Regions from separate parts of the Homo sapiens genome. Here region 1 is linked to region 2. Evidence: fine-mapped expression QTL. Tissue or cell type: nucleus accumbens. Region 2 holds a variant in brackets; the other region holds the start of a gene. All regions are shown on one strand. Distances are from middle to middle. Region 1 holds the start of CFAP20DC-AS1 (CFAP20DC antisense RNA 1). Region 2 overlaps CFAP20DC (CFAP20 domain containing).

Evidence for each region.
Region 1: CFAP20DC-AS1 starts here. The variant in region 2 is fine-mapped to the expression of CFAP20DC-AS1 in nucleus accumbens (GTEx, PIP above 0.99).

Annotation. Positions count from the first base shown.
Region 1 is chr3:58,819,470-58,828,969 of GRCh38, forward strand. It overlaps CFAP20DC-AS1 (CFAP20DC antisense RNA 1), which reads left to right and starts at 5,002. Exons shown (of 3, transcript NR_110820.1): 1 at 5,002-5,106. All of the region lies in intron 14 of CFAP20DC (CFAP20 domain containing), which reads right to left.
Region 2 is chr3:58,784,938-58,794,437 of GRCh38, forward strand. The region is part of intron 15 of CFAP20DC (CFAP20 domain containing); the gene reads right to left. Among named protein-coding and RNA genes, the nearest start is that of CFAP20DC-AS1, 35 kb to the right of the region's middle. The variant A/G (reference allele first, on the strand shown) is at 4,555.

The DNA.
Region 1 (9,500 bases), 35 kb after region 2:
ATCCCACAGAAATACAAACTACCATCAGAGAATACTACAAACACCTCTACGCAAATAAACTAGAAAATCTAGAAGAAATGGATAAATTCCTCAACACATACACTCTCCCAAGACTAAACCAGGAAGAAGTTGAATCTCTGAATAGACCAATAACAGGATCTGAAATTGTGGCAATAATCAATAGCTTACCAACCAAAAAGAGTCCAGGACCAGATGGATTCACAGCCGAATTCTACCAGAGGTACAAGGAGGAACGGGTACCATTCCTTCTGAAACTATTCCAATCAATAGAAAAAGAGGGAATCCTCCCTAACTCATTTTATGAGGCCAGCATCATCCTGATACCAAAGCCGGGCAGAGACACAGCCAAAAAAGAGAATTTTAGACCAATATCCTTGATGAACATTGATGCAAAAATCCTCAATAAAATACTGGCAAAACGAATCCAGCAGCACATCAAAAAGCTTATCCACCATGATCAAGTGGGCTTCATCCCTGGGATGCAAGGCTGGTTCAATATACGCAAATCAATAAATGTAATCCAGCATATAAACAGAGCCAAAGACAAAAACCACATGATTATCTCAATAGATGCAGAAAAAGCCTTTGACAAAATTCAACAACCCTTCATGCTAAGAACTCTGAATAAATTAGGTATTGATGGGACATATTTCAAAATAATAAGAGCTATCTATGACAAACCCACAGCCAATATCATACTGAATGGGAAAAAACTGGAAGCATTCCCTTTGAAAACTGGCACAAGACAGGGATGCCCTCTCTCACCACTCCTATTCAACATAGTGTTGGAAGTTCTGGCCAGGGCAATGAGGCAGGAGAAGGAAATAAAGGGTATTCAATTAGGAAAAGAGGAAGTCAAATTGTCCCTGTTTGCAGACGACATGATTGTATATCTAGAAAACCCCATTGTCTCAGCCCAAAATCTCCTTAAGCTGATAAGCAACTTCAGCAAAGTCTCAGGATACAAAATCAATGTACAAAAATCACAAGCATTCTGATACACCAACAACAGACAAACAGAGAGCCAAATCATGAGTGAACTCCCATTCACAATTGCTTCAAAGAGAAGAAAATACCTAGGAATCCAACTTACAAGGGATGTGAAGGACCTCTTCAGGGAGAACTACAAACCACTGCTCAAGGAAATAAAAGAAGATACAAACAAATGGAAGAACATTCCATGCTCATGGGTAGGAAGAATCAATATCGTGAAAATGGCCATACTGCCCAAGGTAATTTACAGATTCAATGCCATCCCCATCAAGCTACCAATGACTTTCTTCACAGAATTGGAAAAAACTACTTTAAAGTTCATATGGAACCAAAAAAGAGCCCGCATCGCCAAGTCAATCCTAAGCCAAAAGAAGAAAGCTGGAGCCATCACACTACCTGACTTCAAACTATACTACAAGGCTACAGTAACCAAAACAGCATGGTACTGGTACCAAAACAGAGATATAGATCAATGGAACAGAATAGAGCCCTCAGAAATAACGCCACATATCTACAATTATCTGATCTTTGACAAACCTGAGAAAAACAAGCAATGGGGAAAGGATTCCCTATTTAATAAATGGTGCTGGGAAAACTGGCTAGCCATATGTAGAAAGCTGAAACTGGATCCCTTCCTTACACCTTATATAAAAATCAATTCAAGATGGATTAAAGATTTAAACGTTAGACCTAAAACCATAAAAACCCTAGAAGAAAACCTAGGCATTACCATTCAGGACATAGGCATGGGCAAGGACTTCATGTACAAAACAACAAAAGCAATGGCAACAAAAGACAAAATTGACAAATGGGATCTAGTTAAACTAAAGAGCTTCTGCACAGCAAAAGAAACTACCATCAGAGTGAACAGGCAACCTACAAAATGGGAGAAAATTTTTGCAACCTACTCATCTGACAAAGGGCTAATATCCAGAATCTACAATGAACACAAACAAATTCACAAGAAAAAAACAAACAACCCCATCAAAAAGTGGGCAAAGGACATGAACAGACACTTCTCAAAAGAAGACATTTATGCAGCCAAAAAACACATGAAAAAATGCTCATCATCACTGGCCATCAGAGAAATGCAAATCAAAACCACTATGAGATACCATCTCACACCAGTTAGAATGGCAATCATTAAAAAGTCAGGAAACAACAGGTGCTGGAGAGGATGTGGAGAAATAGGAACACTTTTACACTGTTGCTGGGACTGTAAACTAGTTCAACCACTGTGGAAGTCAGTGTGGCGATTCCTCAGGGATCTAGAACTAGAAATACCATTTGACCCAGCCATCCCATTACTGGGTATATACCCAAAGGACTATAAATCATGCTGCTATAAAGACACATGCACACGTATGTTTATTGCGGCATTATTCACAATAGCAAAGACTTGGAACCAACCCAAATGTCCAACAATGATAGACTGGATTAAGAAAATGTGGCACATATACACCATGGAATACTATGCAGCCATAAAAAATGAAGAGTTCATGTCCTTTGTAGGGACATGGATGAAATTGGAAATCATCATTCTCAGTAAACTATCGCAAGAACAAAAAACCAAACACCGCATATTCTCACTCATAGGTGGGAATTGAACAATGAGATCACATGGACACAGGAAGGGGAATATCATACTCTGGGGACTGTTGTGGGGTGGGGGGAGGGGGGAAGGATAGCATTGGGAGATATACCTAATGCTAGATGAGGAGTTAGTGGGTGCAGCACATCAGCATGGCACATGTATACATATGTAACTAACCTGCACAATGTGCACATGTACCGTAAAACTTAAAGTATAATAAAAAAAAATCATGAAAAAACAAACAAACAAACAAACAAACAAAAAAAACCAAACACCGCATATTCTCACTCATAGGTGGGAACTGAACAATGAGATCACATGGACACAGGAAGGGGAATATCACACTCTGGGGACTGTTGTGGGGTGGTGGGAGGGGGAAGGGATAGCATCAGGAGATATACCTAATGCTAGATGACGTGTTAGTGGGTGTAGTGCACCAGCATGGCACATGTATACATATGTAACTAACCTGCACAATGTGCACATGTACCCTAAAACTTAAAGTATAATAAAAAAAAAAAAGACTATACAGACTGATCCCTTTCCATCTTTGCTCATAGTGATTTTTAAGTGTTAGAAAACAAAAAAGTAACCAATGGAAACTTTTCAAATAAAAACTGCTGACACGAACACATAGAAAGGTGAACAACTAGCTGTCTGAGGCTAGACATCCTCACCTACAAATGGATATTGATGGAGTTCAGGACATGGCATTTACAGTAGCAGGAAGGTCACTCTCACCTTCTCCTGTTCTCCCCTGCAGCTGGTCATAAAACATAGCTAGGATTTTCTGAACACCCCCTGGAGCAGGTCATAAGATACTCATTTGAGAGATGCCGTCCCTATCCCCTGAAGAAAGGAACATCCTTATCTCTGAAGACACAGGGACACAGAGAAGAATCTGAACAAAAGCCTTGCTGATTTTCTTCGTTTATTTCCATTAGCTCATATCTCCTTTGCCCAATCATATTTCTCCACCACTTTCCTCTCTTCATCAAACCTGGAGTAAAAATATTCAAGTTTCACTGTTTGTTCAGTTCTTCATTTCCTTATAAAGACTCCTGTATCATGGAAAACTTACATGAAATAAATTTGTATGTTTTTCTTTTGCTAATCTGTCTTTTGTTGCAACAGAGGCCTTGGCGATGAATCCAGGGTGGGTGAGAAAAAGATATTTTTCCTCCCCTACAATATGCTTATAAACATATGTAGCAGTAAACCTATTTCTAGGTAGGTAGCATCCTGTGAAAGCACCAATGAAATAATATAGAATTTGTTTTGATTTTGGCATTCAGTCATACCTAGAGAATATCGTAAGTAGATGCAAAGGGATGACAACCAGTATCTACAATGAACTACGACCATCATCATAATAGCGGCGATTGACATTTATTGAGTACTTATGCTAATTCTTGGTAGATATGATCTTATTTGATCCTCAGAGCAATTCTATGAAATAAATAGGATGAACAACTACATTCAACAGAAGAGGAAATTGACACTGGGTATTAACCCAGGATCGTGCCTGCCAGGAAAGAGTGGAGCTAGAATGTGAACCCAGGCAGTCTGAGTCCACAGCTTACCCTCTCAACCACTAGTCTGTAGTGTTTATTCCAGCTCGAGAGTGCATCTAGAGTGGTGACTATTTAAGTTTTTGAATAACAAAATGACAAAATCAGTTCTGTTTGTGGCAGGAAAAAAAAGTGACCCTGAAGAAATACATTTATTTGAAATATATATGACTATCTCCTTACCATAAATTAATTTCATTGTTTTCATTCTCATGACATGTCACTATGTATTTACAATTTAAAAAATCAGTTTTGCCACGTTACTAAATTTGGGACAATCATAAAATGTAATAGACAGTACTCTGAGAATAAGAAAAGTTTATTTCCTGGGGTGACTTTCATAGTCACTAAACACAGAACAACTTGCACATTTCAATATTTCCTCCTGACAGTACAGATACTGTCTCTATTGTCACTATTACACTGACTCTAATATCAGTTTTCGTATATCATTTCTATAGTTGTATAAGAACATCTGCTCATATGATTTATCTGCAGCTTAGCACAATCAACTGCATACCTTTTTAGTTCAGGAGGATTAAAAGAAAACTCATTCTACCCAAAGAGAGCTGAGAAGTTAATGAATCTGTAGATCAGAACAAATTAAAACCTATTAATTATAAGGAGTCTGAAATGCCAATATATTATATTTTGAATACACAGCAACCAGGAATATCATGCAAAAACGCTGATATGCTGTGGAGCAAAGAAATGGAACAGATCCCAGAAACTCAGGACCTCGGCCTTTTGGTGGCGCTGTTGCTATGTGCTAGTGCCAGGAAAACAGTATTCATATATAATTAACTACCACGGAGCACAAGCAGCTTTGCTTTTCCATGATCAAGCTGCTAGAGATTTTGGGGTGAGGGAGCGAAATGAAGGCTAAATAAAAGAACCGGAGATAAGATAATCCTGCCATGTTAAAAGGTAAAGATAATATTTTTATGTTGTTATGTAAAACCTATGAAAATGGCGATAATGTTGCAAGGTTAATCAAGACCATAAATAACTTGTCTGAGAACCTCACCATATGCCTGCAGTTTTATTAAGTGTATTTTGCCTCGTTATTCTCCGAATATTATGCTCTGCAACATGCCATGTTGATGGATGCATGCAATGAGCTTTTCTTTTCTTTTTTGTAAGCTAAAGAGACTTATGTGCTTGATATTAGGTATGGGAATTCTTTTTTTTTTTTTTAAGAGATGGGGTCTCATTGTGTTACCCACACTGGCCTTGAATTCCTGGGCTAAAATCCTCCTGCCTTAGCCTCCCAATTAGCTGGGAATACAGACCTGTGCCACCATGCCCCCGTTCAGGTTATGTTAATTATTAACCTGAAGGAATGACAGCTTTGGGGCATCTGCTCACAGGGTAGCTGCACAATAAACCTACTTTTCTTGAATCTACATTTGAGGAGAGACAGTGAAATGAAATATTGAAATAATGAGATAATGAAGGAGTTTATTTGGAAGGATCTGAGGGAGTCAGTCTGTATGCTGATGGTTAAACTCACATCAAAACAAACACTACAGAATCTCTGCTTACTCTTTCAGGTCTCAGTCGTCATAAAAAGGGAAAATGTCCTAGAAATTCTGTTCTGATCACTCAAGTGGCCCTTTGAGGAGAATAACCTTGGGGAAACAGCAGTTGACAGTCAGTGTGAGCTTACTCTGCTAAGCACCAGGCACATGCATTTCATGTACTCATTCGATTTGCATAATGCCAATATTAGGAAGGTTCTTTTATTATTTCCATTTCAAAGATGATCATGTCCATAAATGGCAGAGCTGGAATTTGAGCCCAGGTTGACTGATCTAGAGTTTATATTTGTTTGGGCATCCCATGAAGCAGTGTCCATTGATAGCTGTTCCTGTTCCTTAAAAAAAGAAAACACACACACACACACACAACATGGCTTTATGCTATTGTCAATCAAAATCCCTCACCAAGATAAAATTCACTTAAAATTCATTATAACTAACTCCTAGTGCCCTTCCAAAGGCTGCCGAGAGCCCAGTTTTTGAATAAATCTCACGAGGGCTACTCCTAACAGAAACTCTCCAAAATTGATTGATTGTAGCCTGGTTTCCACAGAAGTTGTAAAGTATTGTTTTAATTGAATTTGGTTCTAAGTTAGAAACTTTGAAAAATTTGTCTGTCAAAGGCCAATGGATTTCTCAGTAGGCTTGATTTATTTAGCAAGAGATGCCTACAAAAGCCAATTTGCTATGAGGAATGTGGTTACATTTAATTACACTTTTAAATGACTAATTTGTTATATCTAAACACCTTTTAAACAGTACATATTACTCTGAACTGTACAGATGCTGAGGAATCAAAGTTTGTGTTAAACACAAAGGATTTTGCTAAAGACTCTTCATTTTACTCTGCGTAGGCTTTCTGGCTTCAGACTGCAATGTGTGTGAAGTCGTCAGGTAAAAATGCTAAACTGAATGGGACCGGACTACATCTTTTTCTTCCTATTTGCAATCAGGCCCTGCTCAGAAGGAGATTTTCCTTTGGGTGTATATTTAATATCCATTTATCAAATCTTGAATTGAAAATATTACATGCATCACTCAGGATTTATTTAAGCAAAGCAAAGCTGATGTTTATTTTGGAATCTTGACGAAAATTATTTTAGAGTAAAAAATGAATTTTTAAAAATTATACTTTAAGTTTTGGGATACATGGGCAGAATGTGTAGGTTTGTTACATAGGTACACATGTGTCATGGTGGTTTGCTGCACCCATCAACCCGTCATCTACATTAGGTATTTCTCCTAATGCTATCTATCCCTCCCCTAGCCCCCTACACTCCGACGGGCACTGCTGTGTGATGTTTCCCTCCCTGTGTCCATGTGTTCTCACTGTTCAACTCTCACTTATGAGTGAGAATATGCAGTGTTTGGTTTTCTGTTCCTGTATTAGTTTGCTGAGAATGATGGTTTCCGGCTTCATCCATGTCCCTGCAAAGGACCTAAACTCATCCGTAAACAAGGAATTTTTAAAAATATTATTGATTGATTCATTCAAGTAATGACTGACAACTAGCTGTGATGCCTTGTGCTAGCCTTTGTGCTCCAACACAGAAGGTATGAAAGAACACAGGCAGGGTTCTGCCTTCAAGGAATTCACAACCAGGCCTGGGGATAGTGGTAACAGTGGTTGGCTAATGTCATAAGTGCTGTAATTGAGCCAGAAGATAACAGGGACCCAGAGAGGGAAGCGAATAATTCTGTTCAGGGTGGGATGAGGGTTGGGGAGAGTTTCATGAAGCAGTGACAAGTGAGTTGGGGCCTTCAGAAATAAGCAAAAGGAGGGATAAACAGTCAGAGTACAGAGAATTTTAGGGGCAGTGAAACTACTCTGTATGATACTATAATGGTAGATACATGTCACTATACCTTTGTCTAAATCCATAAAATGCACAACACCAAGAGTGAACCCTGATAATGTGACAATGATGTGTCAATGGAGGTTCATTAATTGTAACAAATTACCACTCTGGTGGGGGACACTGATAATAGGGTTCGTCTCAATTTTGCTGTGAACCCAAAACGGCTCAAAACAATTATAAGTCTTTAATAAAAAATTAGCCAAAAACCAAAAAACCAAAACAGAAATTAAAGAGCCATTTTCTAAATAGAGAAGGAGCTGCCAGACAGAGAAGAGATGAGCATGGCCTGATCTGAACACAGGGCATGGCTCACCAACTGACAGCCAAGTTGACAGTGTGGCAGGAGCAGAGTGGCTCACTTGTGTGTATGTTGGGTGGGGGGTGGGTAGCGAGACAAGCAAAACTCATTTCAAGTGCTACGCAAGCTGACAGAGAAACGAAGGCACTAAGAGGAGGTTATCTTGCTAAAGGAGAGACTCCCCACTGTCCCCTCCACCACAGACTTAATTTGGCTTCCTTTTGGAACTTGGAATTCCAGTCCCCTCTTGTCTGCATGGTAAACTTGAACTCATTCTTGAACTTTGGCTTAACTGTTGTCTTCTCTGTGAAAGCATCCCTGAAACCCACATGCGGAATCACTCCCTCTCACGTGTTCCCATAACTCGTTATTCTATCACTTGCCACCCTGAGTTACAGTGAGCCGTTTACCTGGGCTTCCCCACCAAAACTGTGAATACCTCAAGCTTGGATAAGGCTTTATCTGTATCCTCAGTAGCCAGCCTAGTTCACAGCACATGTGTGCCACTCAAAAACATATGTGTGGAATGAGTGAATGTGAGACAGACAAGCAAGCTTGTGGTGAGAGTTATCAGGGAGATACTCCTGACTCTTGTGGCAGAGAAGGTGTATCCTTCACAACGAGGCCTGGAGAAGGGCTACAGTGACTTTAGAGCTAAGTCTTGAGGATAATCAGGTCCACGGTACAGGGATAATGTGCAGAGTGCATCTAGGGACTACAGAATGGAGTGAAAGGTGGGGTGCAGTGAGAGATGAGGCTGGAGAGAGGGCAAGTCTCAGATCATGGGGGCTCCTGTATGCCAAGGTAAAGAGGTGATGGGGAGTCACTGAAAGGCTTTACCTAATGAAGAGATCAGATCAGATCAGATTTGGGCTTTAGGAAGATCACTAATGTGAATAATAATGATAATAATAATGACAGCTAAACTTCATTTATTAAGTACTTATGTCTCAGATACAGTGCCAAGCATTTTATAAGGGTCACAGCTTGGATCTCAACCGTGGAAATTTGACGTCAGAGCTGAGGCTCCTAACCACCAGGTTACAGTGCTTTGACTGGAGGCACAGAGATGTTAGGGGACTATTGAAGGAATTCAGATGAAAAATAAAGTGCATAAACCATAAAAAAGAGTGAAATCATGTCCTTTGCAGCAACATGGATGCAGCTGGAGGCCATTATCCTAAGCAAATTAATGCAGGAACAGAAAACCAAATACTGCATGTTCTCACTTATAAGCAGGAGCTAAACATCAGGTACTCATGGAAATAAATATGTCAACAATAGAAACTGGGGACTGCTAAAGGAGAGAGGGAGGAAGGGGACAGGGATTGAAAAAGTAACTATTGGGTACTATGCTCAATACCTGCATGAATGAATCATTTGTACCCCAGTCTTCAGTATCATGCAATGTACCCTGGTGACAAATGTGCACATGTACCTCCTCAATCTAAAATAAATACTGAAAAAAAAAAGTGCATAATCTGTCATGGGATTAAGGGGAAAAAAGAAAAAAGGAAAAGTGCCAAGGCTGTGGTATTAGGAAGGGTGGGTTAAGAGATAAAAAGGAGAGAGGATTCTTAGGATTTGGAGACCAGCTGGATGTGGGATAAAGAAGCGGGAGAA
Region 2 (9,500 bases):
CAAAGGAAAAGAAATCAGTATATCAAAGGGATACCTGCACTTACCTGTTTATTGCGGCACTATTCACAATAGCAAAGATAAGGAATCAACCTAAGTGTCCATCAACGAATGAATGGATAAAGAAAATATGGTATACATACACAATATACTATTGTTCTCTTTTATGGCTGAATACTATTATTGTCTTTGCAGCAACATGGGTGGGACCAGAGGTCGTTATGTTAAGTGAAATAAACCAAGCACAGAAAGACAAATACCTCATGTTCTCACTCATATGTGAGAGTTCAAAAAGTGGATCTCATGGAGGTAGAGAGTAGAATGATAGATACCGGAGGCTGGGAAGGCTGTGTGGGTAGGAGCGGGGATGAAGACAGGTTTGTTAATGGGTATAAACATACAATTAGATAGAAGGTATAAATTCCAAAGTTTGATAGCAGAGTAAGGTAACTATATTTAGCAAAAATGTATATGTCAAAGTAGCTAGAAGGGAGGACTTGAAATGATACCAACACACAGAAATGATAAATATTCAAGATGGATACCCCAAATATTCTGTCTTGGTCATCACACATTCCATACATGTAACAAAAGATCATATGTACTCCATAAATGTAAAATATTATGTATCGGTTTAAAACAGAAAAAAAACTATCTTTTTACCCACCAGAAGGATACACATAGAATGAAGACCTCATCTCTGATAAACACAGCATCATTGAAGATGTAGGGGAAGTAACTGCCTCCCTCCCATAACGGGTTTGCTTCATATGGAAGGAAACCAAAATATGTCCCCCAAAATATGCTTCCGTGACCTAAAAATTGTTTTCGAGCCAAAGGCAATTAAGAAGAAGCAAACACAGGAAAAACTCTCTCTACTTTCCCTCTTATCTGCCTAAAGACAGGATATCAAGTCTCCTTTACTGGAGACAACTCTAGACTTTTAGGAGCTCAGAGATGGCCACAGAGGAATCTGCAAGGAAACCTCACTCCATTGGTTTCCTCCCATATATTTACCTTCTCACAGTTTCTGGCCCTTGAAAGCCAAAAACTGCTTACATTTGTCCTGTTGTTTCTCCACAAATGTACTGTTCTTTGTGAAAGATGTTACGTAAGCCAGAGTTCTAAGCCACTGCTTTGAGTTACTTTTCATTGAGGTTTCTCCCACAGGATGTGTGCTGCAAATGTTAATAAACTCGTTTTTCTCTTGCTAATCCTTCTTTTATTACAGGGTCCATCCCAACTAACAACTCATGGAGGTTGTAGAAAATTATATTTCCTCCGTGGTGATATCTTTGAAAACATTAAGAAAATTACTTGAATGCCTGCTCTATCCCACTTTATATTTGTGTTCTAGGTATTCACAAGAGTGGTATCAAAAACACAGAGTCTCTGCTCCCATGGAGCTTACAATCCAGAGATGGAGGCAGACAGTAAATACAGTAGTCCCTCCTTGTCCTTGGTTTTATTTTCTGTGGTTTTAGCTACCTGAGGTCAATCATGGTCCAAAAATATTAAATGGAAAATTTCAGCAATAAACAATTCATAAATTTTAAATCAAGTACTGTTCTGAATTTGTGAAATCTTGTGCTGTCCCTGTCTGTCTTGTCCCAGACCTGAATCCCTTTTCTGGTGTATCCACACCCATTAGTTTCTTAGTAGCCGTCTCCATTATCAGATCGTCCGTGATAGTATCACAGTGCTTGTGTTCAAGTAACTCTTATTTTACTAAATAATGGCCCCAAAGAGCAAGAATAGTGATGTTGGCAATTAAGATATGCCAAAGAGAAGCTTCAAAGTGTTTCCTTTAAGTAAAAACCGCAAAAGTTCCCGACTTAATAAGGAAAGAAAAAAATCATATACTGAGGTTGCTAAGATCTATGGTAAGAATAAATCTGTGAAGTTATGAACAGTATATTACTATAATTGTTCTATTTTATTATTATTCTTGTTAATATCTTACTGTGTCAATTTATAAATTAACTTTATCATAGGTATGCATATATAGAAAAAAATATAGCATATATAGGGTTTGGCACTATCTGTCGTTTTAGACATCCACTGGAGTCTTGGAATGTACCCCCTGTAGATAAGGGGGGGCATTACTGTAAATATACAAAGAAAGAATATTATTTCAGATAGAAAACAGTGCTATAAAAATATAAAAGTAATTTTATATAAAAGTAATTTTAAAAATAAAAAGATTTGATGAGTATTTCTTATTAACAGCTCTAGCACAGAGTAACGCTGATACAAGATTTCATAAAAACTCCAATTCATCATTCTCAGTAAACTATCGCAAGAACAAAAAACCAAACACTGCATATTCTCACTCATAGGTGGGAATTGAACAATGAGATCACATGGACACAGGAAGGGGAACATCACACTCTGGGGACTGTTGTGGGGTGGGGGGAGGGGGGAGGGATAGCATTGGGAGATATACCTAATGCTAGATGACGAGTTAGTGGGTGCAGCACACCAGCATGGCACATGTATACGTATGTAACTAACCTGCACAATGTGCACATGTACCCTAAAACTTAAAGTATAATAAAAAAGAATAAATTAAAAAACCAACAAACAAACAAACAAAAAACTCCAATTCATTGTGTTAATTAGTTCAACCATGGTGGAGGACAGTGTGGCGATTCCTCAAGGATCTAGAACCAGAAATACCATTTGACCCAGCAATCCCATTACCGAGTATATACCCAAAGGATTATAAATCATTCTACTATAAAGATGCACATGCATGTTTATTGCAGCACTATTTACAATAGCAAAGACTTGGAACCAACTCAAATGCCCATCAATGATAGAATGGATTAAGAAAATGTGGCATGTATACACCATGAAATACTATGCAGCCATAAAAACGGATGAGTTCATGTCCTTTGCAGGGACATGGATGAAGCCGGACACCATCATTCTCAGCAAATTAACACACAAACAGGAAACCAAACACTGCATGTTCTCACTCATAAGTGGGAGTTGAACAATGAGAACACACAGACACAGGGAGGGGAACATCACACACTGGGGCCTGTTGGGGGGTGGGGTGCTAGGGGAGGGATAGCATTAGGAGAAACACCTAATGTAGATGATGGGTTGATAGGTGCAGCAAACCACCATGGCATGTGTATACCTATACATATATAACAAACCTGCATGTTCTGCACATTTGTCCCAGAACTTAAAGTACAATTTAAAAAAAAAAAAGAGGAAGAAAACACTAAAAAACAAAGCAAAACAAAACAAAACTCCAACTCACTGCATACAGACAGATTCTGAGCACGCAGTGAGAAAGGGAACCACAGCATGGTTGATTTGGGGCCGTCTATTGGAGATGGATGTTTCTAATATAATGGGCCCCTCAGATGAACAAATTAAATTCACATTTAAACCACGGTTACCGGGGAAATCCTATTGGTGAGAATCCACAGACATTTTTGAGCTTCTAATGTGGACAGCGCTGTATGAGAAGTAATGGGGAGCAAATGGGGAATCAACGAGAAAAATTTCTTACCTTTAGTTTATCACCTCAACTTCTAGCACGACTTTCCTAAATCTCAGCAAGACGTGGCTGGTCACAAAATGGGATGCTAACATATTCCCGTGCTGCATGTCTGGATGAACACATGGCTAGGCTGGGATTGTAGCAACAGCAATGACTACCACCACCACAGTGGAAAACACTTTGACAATCCAATGTGGAACTGTATATTAGACACACATTTAGGGCACTAATCTAGTATATAAATTGCACAGTTTTTAATCTCAGCTTAAACTTCCTTTTAGCCTTGTGACCTTTGAGCCAAACTCTGTGTCTCTTGTTTCCACATCTGGAATATGGGAATAAGAGAACTGACCCTACTGGGTTGTAGCAGGGATTAAATAAACTAGTCATCCCTCAGTAGGAGTGGGGATTAGGTTTCAGTTCCCCCTCCCCACATATACCAAAATCCTCAAGTTGGCCATGCAGAACCCACATATATGAAAAATGGGTTGGAAAAAATCTGTGTCATAATTTGTAAGGGAACCCATATAGTTCAAACCCATGTTGTTCAAGGGTCAACTGTAACATAAAATGTATCAATTCCACACAGTGGCACACAGTATAAAACTCACCACACAGTAATAGCATTAGTAGTTATTATTGTTTAAAATTACAGAAAAAAGTTCAATCCCAAGCAACTTTATATAACACCTTTTAGAGAGTTATAAGGCAACTGTAGGTTAAATGCTTTGTAACTAAGTCATTAGCAAATCAAGAGCAAAAAACTTTGCAGCCTTTTCTAACTTTAACGAGAGAATAATTGCCTTAAAATTAGAATACAAAATAAAACCATCCAAATCTTTCTGTGGAATGATGGGACTTAATGGTGCAGAAAGAGTAGGTGGGATTTAATTTAGTGCTTTAATTTAGCTCTCTGGGCTTTTGTAAAGAATAACTACAGGGTATCATTTTCATTATTGTGTCAGATTATCAGATACCTTATTTATGTACTGATTTCCATTTTCTTTTCAAAGTTTGGTTATACCTTTCTGTTCAGA[A/G]GTCAAATAAAACAATGATATGCTAAAAAGGCTCTGTGAGGTGAATGACAATTCAATTTCCCCCAGTGTTGGCTGGTTGCATGAGAAAATAAGGAACTGGAGCAAGTTGACAGGATCTTTAGTTGACTAGATTTATTTCCCAGCATTTTCAGGGTGTGTTAATTGTAACACTTCAGTTAATGAAAAATATTGTGATTAAACACTGATATGGGTGATAAATGGATTTTTGAACAGATGATGGTAAAATGCTATTTTAAAAACATTGGGAGGAAATAATAAAAACTCTTTTGTTGATTGGACCATTATTGTGAGTAAATTAGGCTTCCCAGGAAGGAAATAATTTACTCAAATCACCAGGCTACCATCATCATAATTATTCATGGTGTTACTGAGCTGCTATTCCACTTAAATATAGTCTCATTCTACAGAAAGCTTACATAAATTATAAAAAAGGTAGAAAGATACAGAAATGTTAAAATATTAGAAAAAGCAAACTATTTTAGACTAAGAATTATACCAATTATCCTTATTAACAATTATACTAATTATTCTTATTAATATTGATGTGTAATGTAAACAGAGAAAAATGCACAAATCATAGCTGTATGGCTCAATGAATGATCCCACAGTGAGCCATAATCCCCACCTGGGTCAAGAGGTAAAAGCGTCCCTTCCTCCTTCTTCTAATTATTACACTCTCTTCTCCCTACAAGTGAGCCTGGTGACTTCTAATACCCATGGCTCAGTTTGTCTGTTTTTGAATTCCATATGAATGGAATCATACAATATGTATTTATTCTCAGTTGTATATCTTTGATATGGACCGGAGACAGGGAAATAATGGGTAGAAGAGGGTGGTTCCCTGGCAAAGGCCCCACTCTCAAGCCTGGAAACCTGTGGCCCTAAATGGGAACAGGCATTCCTGTTTTCTCGCCCAAAAGTTGCCATTTGGCCTGCCATGTCCCCTATCATGTACCCATATAAACCTCAAACCCCAGGTTCCATGAGCAGATGAACAGAAGAGCAGAAGAGCAGCAGAGAAGGAGAGGAGTAGTGGTGAAAAGGACATGTGGATCCATGGAGGCTACTTAGAAGGCTATAGCAATAGTCCAGGAGAAAGATGGTGATTTTTTAGGTGACCAAAAGCCAAATGTAAGACATTAGTGGGATATGGGAACTAAAACTATGAATGTGATTTAAGCAATGTACTATACTAGTCAATGGTGTAACTGTAGTCTGAACTCTTTGGATTACATCTAGATTATTGTGTTCATTTTAGAGAATTCCAATTTGATAAATTAAAAGGTATCCAAAGGACGGTGATTAGGACTATGCCAGGACCAGGAATGGCAAAATGGAGTTGGGACTGGAGTGAGAAAATGTGAGACTAGAGGAGAAAACAGAGCAACCCAGAAGTGATATTAAAAAATTCAAGAGGTATTTTATGAAAAGTGATGGTTCTACTTATTGTTCTGGAAACAGAACTAGGATCAATGGGAAGAAGCTATAGAGAAGCCTACATCAGCTCAGTATAAGGAAGATTTCCCATGGTTGGAGTTGCCCAATAATGGAATGGGCTGTCTTCTGCTGCACTGAGCCTGCTTCCCTGGCAGAGATGTGTAAAGTTTGAAGAGATGCTGGGTTAAATCATCTCCCTGATCTCATCAAACCCTTTAAGATTCTCTGATTCTGTTAAAGTATGATTTTTTTTGAAAAATTATTCCTAATATTACTATTAATATCCCTACCAATACTATCATCACTTTCTACCATTTAATAAAAATATATATGCCAGGCCCTATGCAAAACATGTTATGAGTATTATTTCATTTAATCTTTGCAATAACACTTTATGGTGGGTAGTAAAATACAATTCCTATTTTTAGATAACTTAATTGGGGCTTGGAGAGGTTAACTAATGTCATAAGGATATAAACCCAACCTTTTGATTCTAGAGACAGTTTTTTAAACTAGTGCATTATACCACCTCATGAAACCCCTTATTCTACTATATGCCAATTAATCTCATACTGAGTGAATAGTTTAACCAATTTTTAACATTCAAATATGAAAATATATGAAATGCTGTATTTCCAATGACAATGTATATTCAATGTCACAGTTAGCAACTGTGTCAGTCAGAATAAGGGTATGTTATGCTTGATAACAAAAAACCCTCAAATCTCAGTGACTTAAAAACAACAAATGTTAATTTCTTGCTCATGTTAAGTTTTTATAACAGATCATTATAGGGACTCTGTTTGTCACAGTCATTAAGTGACTGGGTTGACTGAACCACCATCATCTTGAATGTTTCTGGTCACAGTGTCAGAGGAAAAGATAATCTGGAAGGTTTCACACCTACAATGTAAATGTTCTTGCCAAGAAATAACGTAGGCCCTTATGCTCCTAATTAGTTGGCTAGAATTAGTTGGGTTAGTTGGCTCCACCCCCAAACAAGGAAACCTAGAAGTGCAATACAACCATGTACTTGGAATCTGGAGAGCTGGGAATATTTGGGGAACAGTGTCAGTAACTACTATAGACAATAAATCTTCAAGGATGTCAGAAAACATGCAAACAACTTTTGCTACATATATTTCAGAATTTCTACCAAGAATATAGACTATTCTCATTGTTTATTTACCCCAAGTTGAGAGAACGTTAGAAGAGAGGAAATCTAGAAAACATGCTGAATTCTGGTAAAGTTCTTCACTGTATATGTAAAATATAACTTGAATCATAATCATGTCTGGGATTCAAGCCCTGGACATGCCAAAGTAGTATATTTATTTGCGTTTGGGCTAGATACAAATGTTTAGATGGTAAATGCAGTATTTTACTCCGAGTTTCATTGTACCTACTTAAGTAAAGCCATTATTGGTGAATTGGGAGAAGAGAATACTAAACAACCCAAGCCTTACATTAGGTTTTGAATATTAAGATATTAGAATAAAAACTATTTCAATGCTTCATAGGAATTTTATTCTGAAAATCCTTGGCAAGGCAAGTCCATCACTGTCAAATTAACTACAAGTGTGCTATTAAAATCTCTATTTTACTTATATAAAAATATAAACCTCTTAAAAACTTTTACTTTCTGATAAATATTTGTAATAATACAAAATAAAATAAGTAATTCATCTTATTTCTTGCAGAGACTCTCAGAGTACTCAATTGAAATTTGAACTACTTTTATCTAGTATCTGTGACAAAATATAGTTGTTTTATTTATAAATACTCCATGAGTTCAACTACAAAACTAAAAACTGACAATGAAAATATAAAGACAAATCAGTGGCATCTTTGAAGCATTTCACTGGAAATGGCTGTTAGAAGATAAATTCTTGTTGTAAGTGATTTAAATGCTTGAAGAAAAAGTACATGTGGTGTTGGTATGCTAAAAATGTAATTAAAATGTATATTACAAATGCTAGTTTAGAGAAGAACTGATTTTAAAAGCCAATGATGTTTCCTGTAAGGGCACTGCTGTGGTATTTTATAATAGATGGTACCTTTTTCTAATTTGAAAGCTACATATTTTAATAGAGAATGGCCCAAAATGTTTTTAAGGTCAAACTGGAAATATGTTGATGATTTACAAAAATGTAAGCCAAGTGCTTTATTATATTATACTACCAGAGTGTTATTGTAGTTTAAAAATATCATTAAATCAGCACAAACCTGCACTTATCATTTCCTACACATTTTTCACACCAAGCTGCCTTCTGACTATGAGTAATCTGTTAATCTACTCTTCGCCTCACAATCCGTCAAAGTGACAGATTCATTCCTTTCCTAATACATAATATCTTCATTTACTGTATGCCTTGCTGCAACTTTCTTTTTTGCTAGCACTGAAATTTAGAAATTCACAAGCAAATTTAGAGAATGTCACATGGCTGGTTGTTTTTGTTTGCTTCCATTTCTTCTGTTATTCCAGCAAAAGAAACTAAAATTTTTCTGGACTTTTAATGTGAATTAGTAGTATTTCCAAAATGAAGGCAGTTTCAGGTTTCAATAGGAGTGTTGTTGAAAAGGTTGGAAGAGGGCAGATGGCAAAAAAAACAAAGTGCATCCTTCACCAAGTTAAAACACTGATCATAATGTAATTTTCTTTCAATGTTAGTGGCCAATGTATAGATTCTCACCCCCTACCCTCAACCCTTACTAAGGTGTCAAGGAAAAGATATTCTTTTGGTAGTTTAGAGATGAGCTGCCCCTCAACAAAAAATGTAGTTTCATTACCATAAATGTCACTGTTTAATTGAAAGCAATACTGTGATTTTACTTAAGCTGAGACTTTCATTTTATCGTAGTATTGAGATCAGACCAGGCCAGATCTCAGGTTTCTTGTTCACTGCTATTTTGATAATACAAATGGTTCCACTGCTTTAAAATTGTTCACTACTAATTCAACAGAAAATATTTTACTCTTCTTTTCTTGCAACAGATTACAGTTGCTTTTTAGTTTATTAGTTCTGCAAATAAAGAGAATCAAAGACTGAAAAATATGAGAGTATGTACAATTCTAACTCACTTACTTTCATCATAAATAAGCGATAACAAAGTACATTATCTACAAATCGCCATTTGGTCTCGCTTGTTACTGAGCCAGTGTCCACACAGTAATTCAAAGGTCACTACTGTTGTTAGCCTCAAAAGTCAAAAGCAAATAAGTTGTTTACCTCAAAATGTGGGAAGCTGCCTTCTAACCAGTCTTGTTTCAGAATATAGTTTTTTTTTCCCATGCCTACACCAAACATCCAACAGCATTTTCTTGTCCTGAGCACCAAATTGCATCTGATTTGTCTTAATGGATGGCAAAGGACCTAAAGGCTTTTAAAAATCAATGGACAAGAAAGAGTCAACAGAACAATAATGATAGTGTTAATTCAGTCAAATACACTAAAAGATGTTTGCCTTTTTGCCTTCAAGTCATCTTA